Homo sapiens: one gene and its partners. The protein of the gene in region 2 interacts with the protein of the main gene of each other region in a pairwise test. Each region holds a gene or a part of one and is shown on either strand. Other genes may lie near its edges.

What was found.
Region 1: the proteins of NUDT3 (region 2) and XPNPEP1 interact in a two-hybrid assay, tested with the Homo sapiens proteins (one large-scale study listed by BioGRID and IntAct).
Region 3: the proteins of NUDT3 (region 2) and RAB17 interact in a two-hybrid assay, tested with the Homo sapiens proteins (one large-scale study listed by BioGRID and IntAct).
Region 4: the proteins of NUDT3 (region 2) and TNNT3 interact in a two-hybrid assay, tested with the Homo sapiens proteins (one large-scale study listed by BioGRID and IntAct).
Region 5: the proteins of NUDT3 (region 2) and NR2C1 interact in a two-hybrid assay, tested with the Homo sapiens proteins (one large-scale study listed by BioGRID and IntAct).

The regions. Positions count from the first base shown.
Region 1 is NC_000010.11:109,920,211-109,925,382, forward strand, and holds the start of XPNPEP1 (xaa-Pro aminopeptidase 1), read right to left. Parts: upstream 3,302-5,172; 5' UTR 3,224-3,301; coding exon 3,192-3,223; intron 3,037-3,191; exon of another isoform or gene 2,687-3,036; coding exon of another isoform or gene 2,670-2,686; intron 1-2,669. UniProt on the Homo sapiens protein: Metalloaminopeptidase that catalyzes the removal of a penultimate prolyl residue from the N-termini of peptides, such as Arg-Pro-Pro. Contributes to the degradation of bradykinin.
Region 2 is NC_000006.12:34,386,170-34,389,669, reverse strand, and holds part of NUDT3 (diphosphoinositol polyphosphate phosphohydrolase 1), read left to right. Parts: intron 1-3,500. UniProt on the Homo sapiens protein: Cleaves a beta-phosphate from the diphosphate groups in PP-InsP5 (diphosphoinositol pentakisphosphate) and [PP]2-InsP4 (bisdiphosphoinositol tetrakisphosphate), suggesting that it may play a role in signal transduction.
Region 3 is NC_000002.12:237,583,820-237,588,291, reverse strand, and holds part of RAB17 (ras-related protein Rab-17), read left to right. Parts: intron 1-2,134; 5' UTR 2,135-2,137; coding exon 2,138-2,294; intron 2,295-4,472. UniProt on the Homo sapiens protein: The small GTPases Rab are key regulators of intracellular membrane trafficking, from the formation of transport vesicles to their fusion with membranes.
Region 4 is NC_000011.10:1,921,782-1,926,253, forward strand, and holds part of TNNT3 (troponin T, fast skeletal muscle), read left to right. Parts: intron 1-1,049; exon of another isoform or gene 1,050-1,075; 5' UTR 1,076-1,093; coding exon 1,094-1,110; intron 1,111-1,266; coding exon 1,267-1,280; intron 1,281-1,773; coding exon 1,774-1,791; intron 1,792-3,317; coding exon 3,318-3,335; intron 3,336-3,474; coding exon of another isoform or gene 3,475-3,495; intron 3,496-4,472. UniProt on the Homo sapiens protein: Troponin T is the tropomyosin-binding subunit of troponin, the thin filament regulatory complex which confers calcium-sensitivity to striated muscle actomyosin ATPase activity.
Region 5 is NC_000012.12:95,070,310-95,075,431, reverse strand, and holds the start of NR2C1 (nuclear receptor subfamily 2 group C member 1), read left to right. Parts: upstream 1-1,813; 5' UTR 1,814-2,052; intron 2,053-5,122. UniProt on the Homo sapiens protein: Orphan nuclear receptor. Binds the IR7 element in the promoter of its own gene in an autoregulatory negative feedback mechanism. Primarily repressor of a broad range of genes.

The DNA of each region.
Region 1 (5,172 bases), on a different chromosome or scaffold from region 2:
GTTGCCAAGGGCTGAGGTGAGGAGTGACTGATTACAGGTAACAGGATTTCTTTCGGGGATGAAGAAAATGTTCTAAAATGATTGTGATGATAGTTGTACAACTCTGTGACTATACTAATAACTTGAATTGTACATTTTAACAGATGAATTGTATATAAGTGAATTATATCTCAATAAAGCCATTATAAATTTTATAACATCTCTTTCTTGTGGACAGGGATACAAGTCAGATTCTCACCGAATTTCCCATTACTTCATACGTAAGTTTCTAAGATGGTAAGTAACTGATCCCAATGACTGGTTCAGACACATGACTACAGAGGTGGAAGGTTATCATTTTTTTAGAGACAGGGTCTTGCTGTGTCACTCAGGCTGGAGTGCAGTGGCACAATCTTAGCTTATGGCAGCCTCAAACTCCTAAGCTCAAGCAATTCTCCTGCCTCAATCTCCCAAGGACCTAGGACTACAGGTATGTGCCATCACACCAACCTGATTTTTTTTTTTTAATAATTTTCTGAAGAGACAGGATCTCACCACATTGCCCAGTCTGGTCTCAAACTCCTGGCCTCAAGTGATCCTCCCACCTCAGCCTCCCAAAGTGCTGGGACTATAGGTGTGAGCCACCGTGCCTAGCCAAGGTTACCTTAAGGTAATCCTATTCATTCATTTTACAGAATAAAAAAACAAAGATAACTTACCATAGGCCATATAACTCAGTAGCCGCAAAGCCAAGACCAGAAACTAGGTCTGACAGGTGAGCTCAAACTCTCTGTGTGAGCATCAACACCTCCACCTTTCTGTCAGGATCACAGGAGCTACGAAGCAGCTCAATACTACAGCTGCTCTGTTCTTGTCGTATCTTGGTCTCCGCAGAGTCCAAGATCTATCCACCTTTCACTTGTTTGGACAGATAAAATTCTTAAGTTCTCTGTCAAAGCACAATTATCATTAAATATTAAGAACTAGAAGAATATACCTCAGGGACTATCCAACTCAATTCCCTCCTCTAGACCAGGAAACCAAGAAACAAAGATCAAATGACTGGCTCAAGGCCTCACAGCTAACTGCTGACAGAGCTAGAACCAGCGTTCCAGCCTCCCAACATCCAGCTCAGTGCTCCTACCCTTCCCAGAACTTCTTCGACCTACACCTTCTCAACTTCATGATGAGCCACAAAGTGGGTAAGGGGCAAGAAGCATGCAGAGCACTTTCAATCTTTGTATAAGATGGTTATGGTAGCACTAGAAAAGGCCTTCTCCCTCTTTTTCCAAGAAATTCTGGCAGGGTTCTGAATACCTCACCCCCCTGCAACCCCCAGTTCATGGGAATCACACATGTGTAGCGTTCAGCATGGGGCAAAACAAGGAACAAGATGCTCAATCACACCTAGTGGATGAGACAAGGGTAAACTGGAACAAGTTCTAAGGTTGGGAAGTAAGCAATGTTGTCTTTGTCTACCCAGAATCCATCCCTCCTTTTGATGGGAACCTTGGTTTTCCTTTTGAGAATGTACCCTCTCCATTTCAGCCCAAGGGGTTCAAAGCAGTCTTATCCAAACACCTAACAGGCTCTGGGACCCAAAGCAGGTCAATCCCTCCCTCTGGCCATAATGATTGGTTCACAGATGAACATGAGAATTAAGGCAGCCCAGTGAGCATCAGATCAGGGACTTCTGCTCCATTAGGAAGGAGGGCTCAACTTCTCTGCTGGGGCTGTCAGCCTAGAACTGTCATAACCTGCCATAAGGAGAAAGTCTCCCTGAGAATGAAGCGGATACTGAATAAATCAGAGCCAAGAGATGATAAAGAGAAGTCTGAAGCCAATGTTGGTGGTGCTCCCGGATTCAGCCACACTAGAAGCCAGCTCAACCCCATTTTAGGTAAATCAATTTGAGTTCAGTTTCCATTACCGAAACTGAAAGAAGTGCTCACTTTTACAAGGAATGGCACTCAAATTCTACCAGTAGGGGAGGCGCCTGTGGAAAATGGCTTCCCCTCTCTCAGCCTTTCACTGGACTTTCCTTTGAGGTAAAAAAGACTCTACCAGCTGGTGTAGAAAAGACTCTTCTGCTCCTAAAAGGCTGTGAGTCTATAAATCTAGCACAGATCACCTTGGCCCCCTAAAGACCACCTGAGGCCTACAGCCTAACTCATCATTATCCACTTGCCTGACTCCATTTCCAGCACTTCACTTACAGGAAGCTCCTTCCAGATGGAAGTTCTCCACCCCTCCCACATACTTCCACAGGGTGGGTCTGGTTTTCTGCTCACCCTTAACAAGCTGTGGCAACGGCAAATCCAGGTCAAGGTAGGTTTGGGACCCCCCTACTCACAAACACAAGCAGGAGCCATGGTCTGTGTTCAGCAAGAAAGCCTGGCCATGCTGCAAAGTGAGTGCATTCATGTCTCAAGTGGTTAGCAGGTGGGTGACCCCTTGGGGATGGCCAGGGAGTCTGGCCTGTGGCCTCCATGAACTCTGAACACCTCTCTCCGTCTCCCACTTTGTCAGAGGCTCTGATAAGTACATCCTGGTTATGGCAGGGGAATAAACTAAAACATGTTTAACTTGAGGCCGGGAAATTATCTGTCTCACCCTCCTATGCCCAAGGAGAGCCCAGGGCAGGCTACTGGGGGGATTTTCCTGGAGATTATACCAAAATATTCCCTTACACAGCCTCTGAAACCATTTGGGTAGGGAGGGGCCCGCGACCGTCTATCCTTGTGGCGGTGACAGATCAGTAGAGTGAATTGCAGGAGTCAGTATTGTCGAGATTGTAACTTGAGGTTTAGATTCCTGGGTAACAGAAGCGAGGGCAAAGGCTCGCCCACCTCCCCGGACACGAAGAGGGGCCAACTTCCTCCAAGAACGGGGCCTTCCCGCGGGCCAGGAACTGTGACGGCCGCCGCCCCCTCAGGCCGAGTGCAGCAGTTCCGCGGGCATACGCGTCCAGGAACCAGACTCGGGCCGCCCCGTGCCCACCGACCCTCCGGAAACGAACCGGATCTCGCCCGGCCTCATGGACCCCTTCCCCCGGCTCCTGTTCCGGGGCTCCGGCGAGCGCGGCCCTCGCCAGACTGCGGCGGGCCGGGCTCCTCACCCGCGCGTCCCTGCCCGCCGAGGTGCAACACGCGCGGCCGCGCAGCGAGGGCTGCACGCTGCCCGGACGCCGGCTGCCGGCGGAGTGCCCTCACCTTACTCGCGGTGGCTTTCTGGAGGCTGCCATTCGGCGGTGACGTGCCCCAGCCCACGTCAGGGGAGCGCAGACCAGCTGATCACCCGCGGAAGGGCCGGCGCGAAGGAGGCGCGAGAGCCGGCGGGCGGGCGGGCGGGCTAGCGCCGGGTCGGCCACGCCCTCGCCCGTGGCGGGCGCTGGCGCCGCGGCCCCGCCCACACGCAGGCCCCGCCCACACTCCCGGACCTGGGGTTCGCGGCCGCAGCGCCTGCGGCCCAGAGCGGGGCCTGCCCTTCCACACCAGTCCGCATTGCCTCTCCCTGCAGCGAGCGGGGAAAGGACGCAGTGCTGCTGAGTGTCTTCATTTTTGTTCGTTTTTGTCGTCATTCCTCAAAGAGGAAAAAGGGCTTTGCCGAATAAAGGGGCTACTGTCCCAGGGATTTTCCGGCTTAATTTAGGAGGGCTGAGAAGAGAGGGACGTGGCCGGCTCCGGAAGAACCTCGACAGGGTCTTCGAGGCTTTGGAACAGGGTCTCAAGCTTTAGAAATGTCCCCAAAAGTATGTTCCCAGAGAGCTTCAAAATCCAGCTCTCCGCTCCGCTTGGATAGTAAATAGCCCCTTCAAACTTAACGTCCAAACGGAACTCCTGGAACTCCCAATGCACCGAAGCAAAGCAAAAACGTTCTCCACCAGTCTTCTTTGCCATCTCAATCAATGGCTACTCTATTCTTAAGAGGCAAAATTTAGGAATCCTCCCTGCCTCTTCTCTTTCACACCCCACATCTAATCTGCCAGCAAAATCTTGTTGGCCCTGCCTCCAAAATAGACCCCTAATCTGGCCGTGTCACACCACCTCCACCTCCTACCCTCTGATGTGCATCAGAGGGTTGTACCACCCCACCCGTGTGGTTACAGCAGCCCCCCAAATATCCCCTCACCATCCCGCACCTGCACAGTCCAGCCTGAACAAAGCCGCCAGACCAGTCCTTTGAAGCGTGACACCAGGTCACTTCTTTGCTCAGCACTTTCCATTAATTTCTCGTTTCACGCAGCATAAAAGCTCCATTTGATCTACCCCCAGCCACATTTCCTCCTGTTCTCACCTTCCTCACTCTTCTTCAGCTGAAATGGCCTCCTGGCTCTCCTTGAAAAAGCAGGGTACACTCATGTCCCAGGGCTTTTGGACTTGCTCATCCCCCAAATATTGAGGCTCCCTTCCTCATTTTCCTTCAAGTCTTCGTTCAAGTATCACCTACCCTGACCATCCTATTTAAATTTGTAAATCATTCCAATATTCCTAATCCGCCTTACCCTACTTCATTTTTTCCATAGCACTTACCACCTTTTAACAGGATTCTTTTAATGTACTTATGTGTACTGTATTCTTCCCCCTCTCCTGCCACCACCCACGCACACAACAAAACCATCAGTGCAGATTGTTTCTGTTTTGTTTAATGATGAACAATATCTAACATGTCATAAGTTCTCATTATATATTTTCTGCAGAAATGAATGTTTCAGAATGTGCACTCCTCAAAAGCAGGGATGGTGGCTCTCTTGTTCATTGTTATTTCCCTGGTGCTTAGAACAACACCTGGCACTAAATGAAAGTGACCACATTTTTTTAAAGGTGAATGGCACCTCCTCCTGCTTTGACCTTGGTGTAAGGCCTAATATACCTGTATCAGCTAGGTTCTGCTACCTGCAAGAACTCAAAGTCGTTATTGAATAAGCATTTAGGCAAGCCGAATTAGACTGTGTAGTTAAAGCATGAAAAAACTAAAGATGTGCTTCCTGGGAAAGCAGCACACATCTGTTGCATTTCCCCAAATTTATGAAGCCAAAAACAGAGAGATTGTAAATAAAATACTGGTTCCAGCCCACATCTGAAAGCTGGTGGGAAAAATCAAGTTATAAGAGAAAACGAGATAAGAGAGAGAGAGATAAGTGAAACTTAAGGGGGACAGGTATTTAATAATCACATTGCCTAAAAGAAAAGG
Region 2 (3,500 bases):
TTTATTTATTTTGAGACAGGGTCTTACTGTGTCACCCAGGTTGGAGTGTAGTGGTGTGATCATGGCTCACTGCAGCCTCAACCTCCTATGCTCAAGCAATCCTCCCGTCTCAGCCTCCCAAGTAGCTGGGACTACATGCACAAGCCACCACATCTGGTTGATTTTTAAATTTTATGTAGAGACAGGGTGTATTAGTCCATTTTCACACTGTTATAAAGAAATACCTGAGACTGAGTAATTTATAAAGAAAGAGGTTTAATTGACTCACAGTTATACATGGCTGGGGAAGCCTCAGGAAACTTACAATCATGGCAGAAGGCAAAGGGGAAGTAAGAACCTTCTTCACAAGGCAGCAGGAGAGAGAGAAGGGAAGGAGGAACTCCCAAACACTTGTAAAACCATTGGATTTCGTGAGCATTCACTAGCATGAGAACCGCATGGGGGAAACTCCCCATGATCCAGTTACCTCCCTCACTCAACACATGGGAGGGATTACAGGTTCCCTCCCTCCACAGGTGGTGATTACAAATCGAGATGAGATTTGGGTGGGGACACAGAGCCATAGCATATCACAGGGTCTCCCTTTGTTGCCCAGGCTATTGTCAAACTCCTGGGCTCAAGAGATCCTCCCATCTCAGCCTCCCAAAATGCTGGGATTATAGGCAAGAGCCACTTTGCCAGGCCAGGAGCTTAAAATTTTAAACTGTTAAAATGAGTTTCTTTAATGCATTGAGTTTCCTTTATTGAATTTCTTTTTGAACGTTGGCTAATGAGCCGAGGAATCATGCAAAGCTTTAAATTACAGATTCAGTGGGTGTTACAGCTAAAGCCTGGGAAGAAAAATAAAATGAGTGAAATACGTCCATTTTAGATTTGTTCAGTTCAACAAACATGTATGAGAAACAACAAAAAGCATGTATTAAAGAGCCTGCTATGGCTGCAGCGCTGTGTCATGGAGAATCTAAATATTAGCATCCCTTCTTGCAGACAGAGTTGAGTAGTTTTAGATGAGATTCCTTAATTGGGAGGGATTTTGGACCACAGAATAATCTCTAGGGTGCTTTTCAACTCTCAGATTATATAATTATGTTGGAAGGGAAGTAATTTGTTAGTTCCAGGAGAACTTTTATGTTCTCAGTAGATGTGCCAGAAGCATTAGCTGCCACACATTGTGGGAATGTAAAATTCCAACCGAATAAGGCATTCAACCCAATTAAAAAAAATTTTAATGGGCACTAATGGCCTTAATCAAGATAGAATAGTTTACAGAATATTATTAGCATTAATACAGTAGTAATATAAGTATAAATAGGACCTTGATTTATAAATTTAAGCAATGTCAAGAAGCATACATGGAATGTGAAGAAAAAGAGATGAAAATACAGCCATGTGTCGCTTAACGTTGGGGATACGTACTGAGAAATGCATCATTAGGTGATTTTGTTGTTGTGTAAACATCATAGAATGTACTTACACATACCTGGATGGTATAGCCTACTGCACATGTAGGCTATATGGTATAGCCTATTGCTCCTAAGCTGCAAAACTGTACAGCATGTGACTGTACTGAATAAATAGGCAATTGTAATGCAGTAGTATTTGTGTATCTAAACATATCTAAACAAGCAAAGTACAGGAAAAATACGGTACAAAAAATAAAAAATGGTTCACCTGACCAGGACACTTATTATGACTGGAAGTTGCTCTGGGTGCATCAGTGAGTGAGCGGTGAGTAAATGCGAAGGCCTAGGGCATTACTGTACACTACAGAAACACTGTACAGCTTAGGTTGCACTAAATCAAAAAATTATTTTTCTTCGATAATAAATTAACCTTAGCTTACTGTAATTTTTTTACTTTATAAACTTTTACATTTTTTAACATTCTGACTCGTTTGTAATACTTAGCTTAAAACACATTGTACAGCTATATAACAATATTTTTCTCTTTCTTTCCTGTCATACTAAAATCACTTTTTTTTTTTTTTTTTTTTTTTAAAAAGAGATGAGATCTTGCTCTGTTCCCCAGGCTGGTCTTGAATTCCTGGGCTCAAGTGATCCTTCCACCTCAGCCTCCCAAGCAGCTAGGACAACTGGTGTATGCCGCCATGCCTGGCTAATGTTTTCTTCATTATATCTTTATTCTAGAAACTTTATTTAAAAATATTATTTAGTATTTGTTTGTTTTACTTTTTGTTCCTCTGGCTACCCATATTTTACTTTTTAAGCTTTTTCTTTGGTTGAAAACAAAGACACAAACACACATTAACCTAGGCCTACACAGGGTCAGGATCATCAGTATCACTGTCTTCCACCTCCACATCTTATCCCACTGGGAGGTCTTCAGGAGAGTAACAGGCGTGGAGCTATCATCTCCTATGATAACAATCCCTTCTTCTGAGACTGTTTTACAATTAACTTTTTAAAAAAATAGAATACACTCTACAGTTAAACAATAAAAAGTACAGTATAGTAAATACAGAAACCAGTAATAGTCATTTACTATCAAGTATTATGTACTGCACATAATTGTATGTGCTACATTTTGTTGTTGTTGTTTTGAGACAGGGTCTTACTCTGTTGCCCAGGCTGGAGTATAATGGTGTGATCACAGCTCACTGCAGCCTTGACCTTCTGGGCTTAAGCGATCCTCCCACCTCAACAAGTATCTGGGGCTCCAGGCACATGCCACCATGCCTGGCTAATTTTTGTATTTTTTTGTAGAGATAGGGTTTCGGCATGTTGCCCAGGCTGGTCTTGAACTCCTGGACTAAGGCAATCTGCATCCTCAGCCTCCCTAAGTGCTGGGATTACAGGCATGAGCCACCGTGCTCAGCTGTGCTAGACTTTTATATGACCGGCAGCACAGTAGGTTTGATTGTGTACTCACCATAAACACATGAGTAATGCATTGTGCTGTGACACCACAGCTATGATGGGATAGGAATTTCTCAACTCCATTATAATCTCTTGGGACTACTCTTGTATATGTGGTCTGTAGTTGACTGAAATGTTATATAGTCCATGACTATATTAGAAGGTAATAGATCATGGGTAGCCAAACCTATCATTCTAGGTTTTTTTTTTCCCCAGCCCCAGAAAACTTTATTTATAGACCAGCAATGAGAGGCTGAAATTCTGATCCAGGTTAGGATGTGTCAACATAGCAAATTTATTGAACACTCATTGAGTGCCAAGTTCTGTGATACTGTTATGAAGGAGACAGACATGCAGGGAGCTTAGAGTCTAATGGGAGAGATGGAAGAACAAACAGACCAAACAGCATGATGAAAATGATTACCTTTTCTTTTTCTGGCTTCTCTTCTTGTTGACAAACAAAAATTAACAGGAAAAAACTTCCCACTTAAAAAGTTGTACTGATTGTTATTGGTATGTTGATAACATCTTTAAATTGGGTATTTGTGGTAACTAACATTTATTACAGTAGTTTGAACCTGATATACAGTTTCTTAACCAACCACCACTTTAACCAGCTTGGTA
Region 3 (4,472 bases), on a different chromosome or scaffold from region 2:
TCATCCCACAGTGGAAGGTGAAAGGGCAAGAGAACACGCAGGCTTGTGGATGTGCAAGACGCAGCAGTGTTAATCTGTGCTGGGCGTGGATTAACGAGGGCAGAGTCCTCATGACCCAACCCCCTTCCATTAGGCCCCACCTCCTAGCATGGTTGCACTGGGGACTAAGTTTCCAAATCTGCTTTTTGGAAGATCCATGCAAACCATAGCTGGCCCCAAGAAATCATCCTCAATCCAGGTGGATATTTCAAAGCACAGGTGCTGTGTTATGTGCTCTTCATGCTTGGCCTCATTCATTCATTTCTTAGGAATTAGTACTTACTATGTGCTAGACACTGTTCCCAGCTCCAAGGAAAACAGAATTCTAGCAGTGATTCCTAGTCTTGGCTGCATACTGAGATCACCTGGAGAGCTTTTCTTTTTCTTTTTCTTTCTTTTTCTTTTCTTTTTTTTTTTTTTAAGAAACACAGATGGAAAACTTAATGTTATGTTTTTTATCCGTCTCTGAAGCCAGCATCATACTTGATGGTGAAACTTGAGTATTTCCAGCTAAGATGGGGTTCCAGGCATGTTTGGGATAACCACCCGAGTCTACTATGTGGAACCCTTCTTCTCTGATGGGTAGAGAGCCCTAAACCCTCCTGTTCTGGACTCCATGACTCTCAGTCACTTTCTCTCTAGAACGATCTTCTTGGTATCTAGGACTCAGTCCTATTTGTTTTGAGATTGATTCCAAACTTGATTCCCTCCCCTCTTATCCCTGCAGGGCAGACCAGACCAGTCTGTGGCCATGGCTCCTTACTGGCGGCAGTGAGGGCATGTGGGCTGCTTCCAACCACTCCTGCTTTTCTTCTTTCCTTTTCAAAATTCCTCCCCTTCCCCCTTTAGGGAGCCTCCCTCTTGCCCACTGTGGTGAGGAAGGGAGAAGAGACTCTGTTCCCAGGACCAGCTGCCCCTGATGGGTTTCATATTTTTTGTGGGGAGCTTCTCTTCCTAGATAATAAACACAAAGTGATAACATTAGAACATTATTAGAATGTCACCATTTTGCAACCCCTTAGTAAAATAGTGGGTCGAAGTAATAGTCTTCAGTGACTGCCAACATCACAGAAAGACAACTGGACATTATTTGCCTTCTGTGGGAAGTGCACGCACACTCTCATGGCAATCTTGCCAAAAAATAGCCTGTATCTAATCAGGTTTATGTCCTGAACCACCGCGGTATCAAAAATACAGAGTTCATAGGACTCTATTCAATAACACAGGGGTGTAATCAGCAACATCCGTACTGGAAATCTACAGGACAACCTGATTTCTTCAACACATGAACTGCAAAGAAAAAAAAATACCTGTATCTCTACTGAGATTTGCAGATGATAGAATGCCTGGGATCTGCTTTACACAGTACCCTGCAGGGGGAGGTTTGGGAGTGTGAGTGATACAAATGGCTGAGCTGATTACTGGGGAAGCGGGAGGTGGGTCTATGGGCCCATCGGACCGTTCTCTCTATTGTGGTGTGTACATGAAAGTTTCTATGATGAAAAATACGCAGGGGTCGCCCACGTTTATTTTGATCACGAAGTTGGTTTTCTCTGGGGCATATTACTGTGGGTTCTGAGGCTTTAGACACAATGGGAATGTGTCTACGATGTTTTGAGATCATTGAGACACCAACCTTTTTTTAGGTAGATTTTTTCTGAAACACCAACTTTAATCCATGAACAACCACCCAAGAAATGCTCAGATGCTTTTTACCTCTCCTTGCATTAGATACTTTGGGGACAAGTAATAGATTTGTAAAAACTGAAAGTAATGGAAGGAGGACAACAAGCCCTGAGACCGTCACATGTAATCATTGCTTTTCAGGGTCTGCAATGACCCGTGCCCGGAGCTTTCCAAGCAAAGCTCCTTTTGTTCCTTACCACAGACCTAAAAATGGACCTAAAAATTGCAGATGGGGAGATGGGGCATGGGGTGCAGAGGGAAGCAGGAGTGTGGACCTAGGTGGCCTCTGAGTTGGGAGCTCTGTATTGGGCCATCTGCTCCTGACCGAGAAGCAGCCCCGGGGTTGAGCTTGCTGAGATGATGTGGCTCCGATGTTCCACTTGCTTCAGACGGTTGTGATTCTTTGCAGGGCATGGCACAGGCACACAGGACCCCCCAGCCCAGGGCTGCCCCCAGCCAGCCCCGTGTGTTCAAGCTGGTTCTCCTGGGAAGTGGCTCCGTGGGTAAGTCCAGCTTGGCTCTTCGGTACGTGAAGAACGACTTCAAGAGTATCCTGCCTACGGTGGGCTGTAAGTGAGGGCAGAGCACCCCTTTGTTGGTCTTCAGTGCAGAAGTCTGGGCTGCTGACCCACACCTGGGGCAGATGGGGACGAGGCCCACCTAGGAATCCCCATGCTGGGACCTTGAGCTGCCTGTGTCCAGTGCGTGAGGGGAGGGGGTGAGGTCCAAGAGGGCAGCCACAGAATCTACAAAGACAGGAAATGCCCTTGGCTCTGGGTCAGGTTTCAGCTCAGCTGGAGTCTGCAGGGGGTGGAGATTCTGGGGTAGGACCTCTGGCCCCAAAGGGTCGGGCTGGGTGCGAGGGATTATGCTGGTGGAAGGGACAGCCCGGAAGAAGCCTCCTGGGCCCTGGCCACTCAGCGGCCTAAACCAGCTGTCCTCTCCCACCACCCAGGCCGCCCTCCTGCTAACACTGCTCCCTTGCTTTATTTACCCCAACAGCATCTTCCTTCCTGCCTGGACTTGGTTTACCAGCTTGGCCTGGATTGGGGGTGGGAAGATCATTTTGGGGGTGGGCGGGGAGGGAGACCTTCTCTCTGTGTTTCTTAAAAAGGCTAACCTGTCATGAAGCTCAGGAGTAACTGTATGGGGCATCTGCAGGCTGCTGGCCTCCTTCCCATCCTGCTGTGGGCACAGTCTGCCTAGGCAGTGAAACCCAGTTTTCACCTGAAATGGGGAAAGCCAGCGTGTTCTTTATGCCCATTCCCCCTGGGGGAACACATGCAGAATCAGAGCCTCGGTTTCAAATTCGGACTCTGACATGGATAAGCTGCACATCTCCAAATTCACTCATTCATTTACTCATCTAACAGGCATCTGTTGAGCATGAACCCTTTTGCAGGCCTGCGTTAGGTGGGATGGATTCTATAACCAGCTAAACAGATGCACCAAACACAGAAACACAATTGCAAGATGTGGCACATGACGTTAGCTATTTAGGGAGCCCTTCCATTTTCTCAGGGGGGTGGTTCCTGAAGGATCCCCAGGGGATACAGGGGAATTGGCAGGGGTCTGCCTGGCCCGACTCCCAGAGCTAGTGGTGAGAAGGGCCAGGGTGATGGTGAGAGGCTGTCTGCAGAGGGGGACCCTGGGGAGAGAGTCAAGGTTACCCTGTGGTGTGCAGTACAATCCTCTTCTCCATTAGCAAGGAGATCTGTACCCCTCACCCCCCAAGTCCTGATATTGGACTTGGCTTCCTTTAAAAATACATCAAAATGCCAAGGCTGGCCTGAGGGTGGCCTCAGTTGAGAATAGAGCACACAGATGGGGGCCTCACCAGGCCTGGATGTTGAGAGCTTTGTACCTGGGTGGCTGGTATTCAAGATGCAGAGAGAGGCAGCAGGTGTCAGGCCAGGTGAGCTGGACTGGGGATGGATCTCACTCTGACACGGAGGTCTGCACACTGTGGCTCTCTGGCTGTTCTTGTTGTTTTGTGAGTAAGGTTCTGTGGAGACACAACTCTACCTCTTCAGGTACTTACCCTCTGTAAATGATATTCTTGCTGTTCCTCCTCCTCTATTCACTCTAAAATGGCAGCAGGGTTGAGTGGTTGCAGCAGTGACCCCATGGCCAGTAAAACCTAAAGTATCTGCTACAGGGCCTTTTACAGAAGGACTCCATGACGCCACCCTAGCAGAGCCTGCAGGAGCCAGCGCCCAAAGGCACTCACTAGGTGAGCGCAAGCAGGGCTGAGAGATTCCGAGATGCCCGGTTGGAGCGTAGGAGGGTGCTTTGGATTCATTGAGACGTGCTTGGACGTGCTCAGCCCACAGAGAGCTGTACCCACAGAGCACCCACCTTTCTTGGGTGGGGGTGGGGGGGTGATGTGTGGGGTCTGTGAAGCTTCAGGGTGGTGCCGGGCATTCTGTATTTTACAGGTGAGGGGGATGGAGGCCCCGACAATGAGGCGCGAGGCCCTAGTTCCTTTCATTCCAGCAAGCCAGGGTCCGAGCATCCCCCTCACACCTGCCCTGCCTGTACCAATTGCCTGCCCTCTCTTCAGGGGGCCTACCAGGGTCGGGGGGTGAACAAAGCTGGGCTTGCTGGGGAGTCCTAGGCCAGGTTGGGGGTCTTTGCTTGGGGGGCAGGCCTGTATGTCTCACTCTACTCCTGGTCCTCTGTCTGGCCCCGCAGGGGCCATCCCCCTGCCGGCAGCTTTCAGATGAAAGCCAGGGCCTCCCTTCCTC
Region 4 (4,472 bases), on a different chromosome or scaffold from region 2:
TTCGAGTAATCTGTACTGTGTTGTAATGAACTTTGTTTTCTAAAACCCTGGCCAACATGCCGGTGCAGCTGCTCAGAGCCTCCCCAGGCCTGGCCGCCCAGTGTGCACGGTGGCCAGCTCACAGAGAGACGGTCCCCAGCATGCTGGCCTGGCGCCACCACCGCACATGGACAGGGCAGCCAGTCCTGGGCATGGAGCTTCCCCTAGACAGGGACAGATCCAGAGCATCCCCGGGACCAGGGAAAGCGGCCACAGGGAGGGAAATGGGGGGGCTGTTCTGTGGGCTCCTGCAGTCCAAGTATGCCTTGTACAGAGCCCGGCCCGGGGGGGTGCACGGGAAGCGGCCCAGACCCAACCCAACGTGCTCTGGGGCTCAGCCTCAATGTTTTCAGGGTACAGGGGTAACAAGAAGGAACAGCTTCCCTGCTCTGTGATCTTGGAGGAGGGGTCCTCAGAGGGGTGTGGTGGGACACACTCTGGGCACCCCATAGGAAAACAGGCACAGAAGGGAGCTTTGGGCTCAAATAGGGAAGAGGGGTTCTCATGGGGAATGGTAGGGTGAGCAGATTACTCATCTTGGGGAGCCAGTCTCGGTCATCCAGGGGCTCCCAGGGAGACCCCACCTACACCCACTGGGCAGAGAACACCCAGAGACAGGTTTCAGCTCCATCAGCGGGACCTTTCCAGTGTCTAGAGCGGGCTGGACGGCACACGGCCTGCATTCTGGATGACCCTCCTCAGGGGACGCCACGGAGAGGATGTCTGCCCTGGGTGGGGGTGGACGCCACGACCTTCCAACATCCCTTCCAGCTCCAAGATTCCAAGCTCCAGTCTGGAGCCAGGGCAGGAAGAGGGGACAGAGTCTGGGGCGCCAAGAGCTGGGAGGGGCCAGGAGCCCTGGAGAAAGGGGAGGCCCAAGGAGGTGGACTCACCCAAGGCCAGAGCTGGCCCCCAAACCCTGCCCGCGGTCCCCCACAGCGCTGCTCCAAGACCCCATCCCCCATCCTACACCCAGGCAGCTCGTAACTCTCTTTCCATCCTCTCTCTCTCTCTCTCTCTGAATCTCTCTCTGCAGAAACCACCCACCTTCACCATGTCTGACGAGGAAGTGTGAGTACCCAGCTGGTGGCTGCCCCCTGCCTGGCTCGGGACCCTGGCCCCTTGGCTTCTGTGGGGCTGGAGCATGCGCTATCTTGCACAAGTCCAAGCAAAGCCCAGCCTCACTACCTCTCTCTCTTTCTTTCTCTCTCTCTCCCTGCCCCACAGTGAACAGGTGGAGGGTAAGTGTAACAGCCATTTTCTTTCTACTTCCTGCTCTAGAAGGAAGGCTCACATGTGGGCAGGGGGCTGGACTGTGCATACCCTGTGTCCCCTTGACAGCCCTACATCAGCTGCATCCCATGGGTGGCTTCTGAGTGACCCCCGGAAAACAGCTGTCCAAGTGGGGGGCCTCGTCTTTTCCCCGAAGTGTGGCCACATGGTCCTGAGGGGCCTGCAGGTCAGGCTCTGGGTCCTGTCTCTCTGCTTCTCTCATGCCCACTGTGGGACGTGGGCATCCAGGACCCCCGAGCCCCCCAAAAGCCACCATCATCACCAGAGCCTCTGCCTTCCCCAGCGCCTCCTCAGGGCCCGAGGACCCCTGATTCCACGCTCTTGGGCAGGGGCAGTCGCTGGCCTGTCCAGGGCCGGGACACACTGGCCTCTCATCCTCCTCCTCCCTTCACGGGCTGCCCCTTCTAACGTGGTTCCCCTCTTTGTTCTGTCCCAATGCAGAGCAGTACGAAGAAGAAGGTAATTCTGGCAACCACCGGAAGCCCCCCCAGCCCCTCCTTGGAACTTAACCCCCCTCTCCCGTGTGGCGCTCACAGAACCCCCTCCCCAGGCTGCTCCAGGCCGCCTTGAGCTTGTCAATCAACCTTCCATCTTCCTCATCATTAGTCACTAACAATCACCATTCATCATTAATTAATGATAAATGAGGCCACCACTTAATTAATGATGGATGAGTCATTAAATCATCACTAACCCCTGTCTCTTTAATCGATTAATATGCATTCACGATCCTTCATTAATCCTTCATCCTCCGTGTGCCATGGTGTGTGGAGTTCACTGGGGCTGGTCATGAAGGCCTCAAAACACCGAGTGCCCTGCGTGCCCAGTGCTGCTGTCTCTCTGCCTCTCTCTCTATCTCTACCCTCCCGGCATCTCAGAGTCTCTCCATCTCTCTCCAGTTCCTTTCCGTGTCTCTCTTGGCAACTTTGTCTCTCTGTGTGCCTGTGTATCTCTCAGCTTCTCTCTGTCTCTGTATCTTTCAGCCTCTTGGTCTCTGTCTCTCCCTGCCTCTCTCTCTCAGTCTCTGTCTTTCTTGGCCTCTCTGTCCCCATTTCTCCACCTCCATCTCCATCTCTGTCTCTCTGTGTCTCCATCCCTCCATGCCACCCCCCAACCCTGTGCTGTAACCCTGGGTGGAGCCTGGAGCCCCCTCCCTGTGCTGGCCAGGTGTGGTCTGTGGGCGTCTCCATCGTGCCCGGGCAGGCGTGGGCGGGTGTGGGCGCACCTGGGAACCGTGTGGGGTGGCGGTTCTCAGGCCGACGGCGCTGCCCTGGAATCCCTGGCACCCACTCAACTGGGGAGCGCGTTCACGCAACCTTAGCAGGCAGGGCTGTCCTGTGAGGAGTCCTGAGTGCTATGTTTTGAAAATATTTTGAAAACACTTGGCTACCCTAACAACGTGAGCAAAACATTTATTTTTCTGCCGAAAAGGTGGAAAGACTCATTTCTGCGAGGGAAATATGGCACTGGGGAGCCATCTTTTCTCTTGGGGCAGCCACGTGGCAGGCCGGGAGGCCACGGAAGGGTCTTCGTGCGACATGTCTCTGAAGACCCCTCAGTGCCAGCCTTGTTTCCGGGTGCACTCAGAGCCGGGGCTTCCCGCAGGCCCTGTGGGTTCTGTCCCCGTTCTCACTTGTGTCACCTGCAGAGCAGGACTTAACAAGGGCCCCCGTGCACAGGCGCCTCCAGGCATGGGAATACCAGGCCCCCAGGAGGGTGGGAGGGGCCTCAGAACCCCTCTCAGGGGCCGGGCCCAGCCCAGCTGACAGTGACCAGCTCTGCTGGTGGGAGTCCGTGCTCCCCGGGGCTGGCCAGAGATGCAGGACTGAGCCCCATCTTTCACCCCTGCCAAGCGAGCCCCAGGCCCTCTTCTCCCGGCCAGCCGGCCTCCTGTCCTTGCGGCCTGAGTACACTCTGATCACTGTCTCTGTTCCCTGTCTCCCTCAACCCCGCCTTCTCCTGCTCCTGGCTTCTCCGGCTCTCAGAGGAAGCCCAGGAGGAAGGTAAGTGGGGTCCAAGGCCCCGGCCCCCATGCCCACTCCCCAGCCTTCCCGCCCCACCCAAAGTTGACCTCCACCCCGCCTCTAAGGATTGCTGTGTGCCCCTGTCTAACCCTCTCCTCTCTCCCCCGGCTCTCCTCAGCTGCAGAAGTCCATGAGGAAGGTATGAGGACACAGGACTTCTTGTCCCCATGTGGGGCCCGGGGCCTGGCTGGAGCCCATGTGGGGGTGGGGGAGAGGGGGAGAGGGTGGGGAAGCCACGAGGTACCAGCCAGCCAAGGGGCCCCCACATGTGGCCCTAATGTAACCCACTAACCGCGGCCAATGCTTGACCAGAGAGAGAATGGGGTCTCGAGGGTGGGCCCCCTTCCCCACAGCCCCCCAGGCAGTAGGGCCAGGGACTCCCCAGGCAGGTGCAGGCTGGGCTGCTGGTCAGCAGGGTGTCCCCAAGCATGGGGCAGAGGGGACACGTAGGCCCACCCTAGTCCTCCACCCCAGGGTAGGCAGTCCAGAGCCCGTGGTGGCGTCGACCCCTGGGCCTGGCCAGGACGCCCGCCACATCTTGGGATGGCACAGAGTGAGGGGAGAGAAGGCGGCTGGGGGCAGAACCCTGCAGCCTGGCACAGTCAGCTCCCTCGTGAGCATGCCCTCGTCAGCCCCCCAGGCCCCCTCACAGCCTTCTGCTATGAGACCCTTGAGGTGCACACAGGCTGGGAGCAGATGGGAGGGCTGGGGTCCCATGCCCAGATCAGCAGGCAGAGCCATCACTGGTGCCCAGGGCTGCCAGCACCCTTGGAGGGTGGAAAGAATTCCATCAGGGAAAGAACGAGTGGGCCCCCAGCGTTGGGATGGCAGGAAGTGGGGGTCCTGGGGACGCCTTCCATGGCCCATCCATGGCTCTGCCTCCCAGGGCTACCAGCACTGCCTTTGTGGGCCCTTGGTGCCACCCGGCCAGGCTACAACCTCGCACGTGGGCCTTGGTGCCCCGGCCAGAGGCGCGGACACCCTTCTGGGGGCGCCCCAGGACAGACAGGGGATGGGGGCGAGCAAAGGAAGGCCCAGCCCCAGTACTGAGCCTGCTCCACCAAGGACAAGAGCCACAGCTCCCGGCCATCCTCTGAGCCTCAGTTTCCCCACCTG
Region 5 (5,122 bases), on a different chromosome or scaffold from region 2:
AAAACCAAACCAAATACACAACAAATAATGCTAAAAGGTAGAGGTTGGAAAAAAAAAAAAGTTTCACTCTCGCCCAGGCTGGAATGCAATGGTGCCAACACTGGACCAGACTCCTGGGCTTAAGCAATCCTCCCACCTCAGCCTCCTCAGTAACTAGGAATACAGGCCTGCACCACCATGCCTTTTTTTTTTCTTTTTTTTTTAAGAGATGGAGTCTCACTATGTTGCCCAGGCTGGTCTCAAACTCCTGGCATCAAGCAAGCCTCCTACCTCAGCCTCCCAAGGCTCTGGGGGCAGAAGCCACTGTGCTCAGCAGAGGTGGATTTTTAATGAGGGATAAAGCATATTTTTACTTGTTAGGGATTGTTTCATGCCTTGATCTCTGTCCGTCTGCCTAGTTCCAGAGAGAAATAACAGAGATGTTCTCATTCCCAGCAAACGTTTGTTTTTCCTTCCTTGGATTTCTGCCCTGAGTTTGTGGCTGCTTTCCTACAGTGCCGACCTAAGCTAGATAAAATAGAAATTTCATGACAAAACAAAGGAGATTTAAAAAAAAACTAGAAATTTCAAGAATGCTTCAAAATCTAAAGCGCAGAGTACTTTGCACACAGGGCAGTTATTCCTGCCACACCTTGCCACTACAGGTGGCCACTGTCAGAATGCGATGTTCCACCAATGTCTCTTCATTTCACAATTTGAAAAATTTTTTTTGTGGAGGCAGGGTTTTGTTATCTTGCCCAAGCCGGTCTCCAACTGCTGGCCCCAAGTGATCTTTCCTTGGCCTCCCAGCAGCCACTTGCCTGGCTTTCATTTCATACATCATTATTGAATAGCAGGCATTGTCCTATGTGCTTGGTAATACATCACTGAGCAAAACAGACAAAAAACGGCCATTGAGGATAATCCTCAATATATAATAATATATATATTATAGAGAGGATGTGGAATATACATATATATGTGTGTGTGTATATATAGAGAGAGAGAGAAAGACTCATTGTGTCACCCAGGCTGGAGTGCGGTGGTGTGATCTTGGCTCACTGCCGTCTTGACTCAGGTGATCCTCCCACCTCAGCCTCCAAGTAATTGGGACGACAGGCACGCGCCACCAGGACTGGCTAATTTTTTTGTAGAGACGGGTTTTCGCCATGTTGGCCAGGCTGGCCTCAAACAACCGGGCTCAAGTGATCCGTCCGCCTCGGCCTCCCAACTTGCTGGGATTACAGGCGTGAGCTACCGTGCCCAGTCTCTAGTGATTATATTCTTGCCCTGTTTAGCCATTATGTCTCTTTACTCACAACAGTTTATAAGTGAAACTTTGCCTTACCATTTGCATGAGTCGGCCTCAGCTTGTCATTATATATAAAGCTTACTAATGTAAATGACGAGTTAATGGGTGCAGCACACCAACATGGCACATGTATACATATGTAACGAACCTGCACGTTGTGTACATGTACTCTAGAACTTAAAGTGTAATACAAAAAAAAAAAAGTTTAAATATGATTGGACTCTACCCCAGAGCCCAGTTTTCCAGAAATTAGAAACAGATATGCCTAAGACCCAGAGGGTTATTTATTACTCAAATCTAAAACGTTGACTCAAAACCTCCCCTAATGCCCACCTTTGGCAAACGATGCTTAAACCTTTGCACGTGGCTTCAAAAATTACCTGGCTGGGAACGCGTAGCTCTGGCGGGGCACTCTGCCTCCAAGCCAAAAGGGGGCAGTGGACTCACAGAGCCGCTGCTCGGCCCTCCGATCCCTCCACCCCACCCTGGGAACGTCACGACCTCCTCTCGCCGCTTCTCCCCGTTGCTAATGCGCAGGCGCTGGCGGGATAGCGCGCCGCCGAGCCGAGAAAGAGGTCACGAACTCTGACCCCCCAGAAATACCCAAACACAGAAAGCTCTCTCCGCCGTGAATCTCGATCCCACATCCCGTCGGCTTTCTTCAACCTCTCTTCCCGGAGCGCCCCCCAATCCACGAGTGGCAGCCGCGGGACTGTCGCGTCGGCGCCCGACGCCGGAGTCAGCAGGGCGCAAAAGCGCCGGTAAGAAACGCTGGGTGGGGACACCAGCGACCGCGTCGGGGGCGGGGGCCAGGGGGTGCCCTTCACCCCAACCGCCAACGGACGCGGTCCCAGCGCATCCCCCGGCCGGCGTCCTGCGGCCAGCGGAGCCGTTCAGTTTGGGAGCGCCGCTTGGGGCTGCTCGACTTCGGCTGGGAGCGCGGAGCTGCGGCGCCAAATGCGCGGGGCCCCGGGAGAGGCGGGGGCGACAGGGGCGGCGGGACGCGGGGCCGGACGGCGAGCGGCTTGGAGCACACAACCCCCTTTCCAGCTGCGCTTACCGCAGCGCCTCTGACCTTTAACCTGCAGGGAAAGCTTCCGCGGCGCTGCAGCTTTCCCCGCCCGGGAGAGCCGCGCGCAGCGCCGGGGCTTCCAGGGCGCACGGCTAACGCCGGCACGAGTGAGACGTGGGAGAGGCCGACCCTCGGCTAGTGGCCGCAAGTCCCGGCCTGCATCCCGTCACTAACTCCCGTGCTTTCACGGGACGGACAGAATGACTCCCCCCACTTTCACTTTTCTCTCACGGCAAATCTGGCCAGGGTCGTCGCTGCCTGTGGGCCTGGATCTTTTCAGAAGAAATGGAACGGCCCCAGGGTTCTCACTGCAGGGGGCATGTCCAAGCTTCCGATAGATAGCTCTTTTGTTAAGAAATAATTCTTCCAACTCGGGCAGATACCATTTTTGTGCAGTACGAATGTTGCCAGGTTGTCCCATAATCTTCAGTAAGTAGGTCAGCCTTTAAAAAAGTAACCGGAAAGCAAAAGCAGAAAGACCTAAAATTACGGCCTTTAGGGTTTAGTACCGCTAGAATTTGTAAATGGACCTTCGATTTTGAGCTTTTTTGAACCATTTCTGCTGTGTGGTTGGTGATACTCGATTTTTTTTTCTTTTTTTTTTTTTTTTTTTGAGAGGGAGAGGGAGTCTCACTGTCGCCAAGCTGGAGTGCGGTGGCGCGATCTCGGCTCACTGCAACCTCCGCCTCCAGGTTCAAGCGATTCTCCTGTCTCAGCCTCCCGAGTAGCTGGGATTACAGACACGAGCCACCACACCCAGCTAGTTTTTTTGTTTTTGTTTTTGTTTTTGTTTTTTGTATTTTTAGTAGAGGTGGGGTTTCACTATGTTGGCCAGGATGGTCTTGATACTCTGACCTCGTGATGTACCCGCCTCTGATCCACCCGCCTCGGCCTCCCAAAGTACTGGGATTACAGGCGTGAGCCACCGCGCCCGGCCGATGATTGTTTTTAAACTTTGCTTTAAGTCCAGTTAGTATATCTGAAAAAGCGATGTGTATTTCTATCATTAAAAGTGGGTCGCGGCTGGGCGCGGTGGCTCACACCTGTAATCCCAGCACTTTGGGAGGCTGAGGTGGGCGGATCATCTGAAGTCGGGAGTTCGAGACCAGCCTGACCAACATGGAGAAACCCCGTTTCTACTAAAAATACAAAATTAGTCGGGCGTGGTGGCGCACACCTGTAATCCCAGCAACTCCGGAGGCCGAGGCAGGAGAATTGCTTGAACCCGGGAGGCGGAGGTTGCAGTGAGCTGAGATCGCGCCATTGCACTCCAGCCTGGGCAAGAAGAGCGAAACTCCGTCTCAAAAAAAAAAAAAAAAGTGGGTTTTATGAAATGTTGCTAATCTTAGTTTTTCAAGGGGCATGTTAGTTTCTTCTAGGAAAGGTTTTTTTGTTTTGTTTTATAGAAATGGTGGGGGGCCTCATTTTGTTATCCAGACAGATCTCTGGCCTCAAGCTATCCTCCTGCCTCAGCCTGTTGAGTAGCTGGAATTACAGGCACCGCATCTTAAGGAAGGATTTTGAGGGAGCAAACATCCCCAAACACACACCGTCTGTGTGTCTGCCACACAATGTATAATCCCTACTCTTGGGGAATAAAAACAAAACAGCATACAATAAATAATAGTATAAATATAATTCGTTGCCGTTTTTCAGTGACAAGACCATCTACAGCCTCTTGAAGTCTTTTATGAACTTGTCTAGAAAAATGCACCTTTAGATAAAATTTTACAGACAGTATTAGGAGTTAACAGAAATCTATTTCTGAATCCTAGCTAACAACCTTAGTCTACAAAATAATTGTTCGACCCTTCAAGAAAGACTGGGTAAAAAACTATTTGAATCAAAATTTTTTTTTTTTTTTTTTGAGACGGAGTTTTGCCCTTGTTTCCCAAGCTGGAGTGCAATGGCACGATCTCGGCTCACTGCAGCCTCCACCTCCCAGGTTCAAGCGATTCTCTTGCCTCAGCCTCCTGCATAGCTGGGATCACAGGCGCCGTCCACCACACCCGGCTAAATTTTTGTATTTTTCGTAGAGATGGGGTTTCACCATGTTGGCCAGGCTGGTCTTGGACTCTTGACCTCAGGTGATCCACGTGCCTTGGCCTCCCAAAGTGCTGGGATTACAGGCGTGAGCCATCGCCCCTGGCTTGAACCAAATCTTAAAAGTCAGGTGGAATTTAAATGAGGGAGAAAGTAGGAATATGTTGGGGGAATAAAGAACATCGTAGTTTGACCTGAACAGAGGCCCCTCTTGGGAGTGATAGGAAATGAGAATAGGGGGAAGTCGGATTATAAAAGAACTCTCCATTGTGGTGTTCACAGTGCCAGGCACCTTGTGAATGCATAATAAATATTGAATGAATACCAAGGGAAGGGGTTAAAACTTTGTTCCCTTGCCATTAAAGCAGCACTGATGGTCTGAAGCTGGAGAATAAGGATAAGTCGTTCTGTGAATGCCTGGCCCCTAGTAAGCATTCAACAAGTGATTTGTTGAATGGAAGAAAATTGAATAAATTTTTGAGCCAGTCAATATGAACATTTTTAAGGCTCTTGGTATACATTGGCAAATTACTTTTCTAGGAAGGTTAAAACAGTCTAACCTTCCACCAACAGTGTATAAAGAATGTGTGTGTTGGCTAGGTGTGGTGGCTCATACCTGTAATCCCCACACTTTGTGAGGCTGAGGTGGGCGGATCACTTGAGATCAAGAATTCGAGACCAGCCTGGCCAACATGGTGAAACCCTTTCTCTACTAA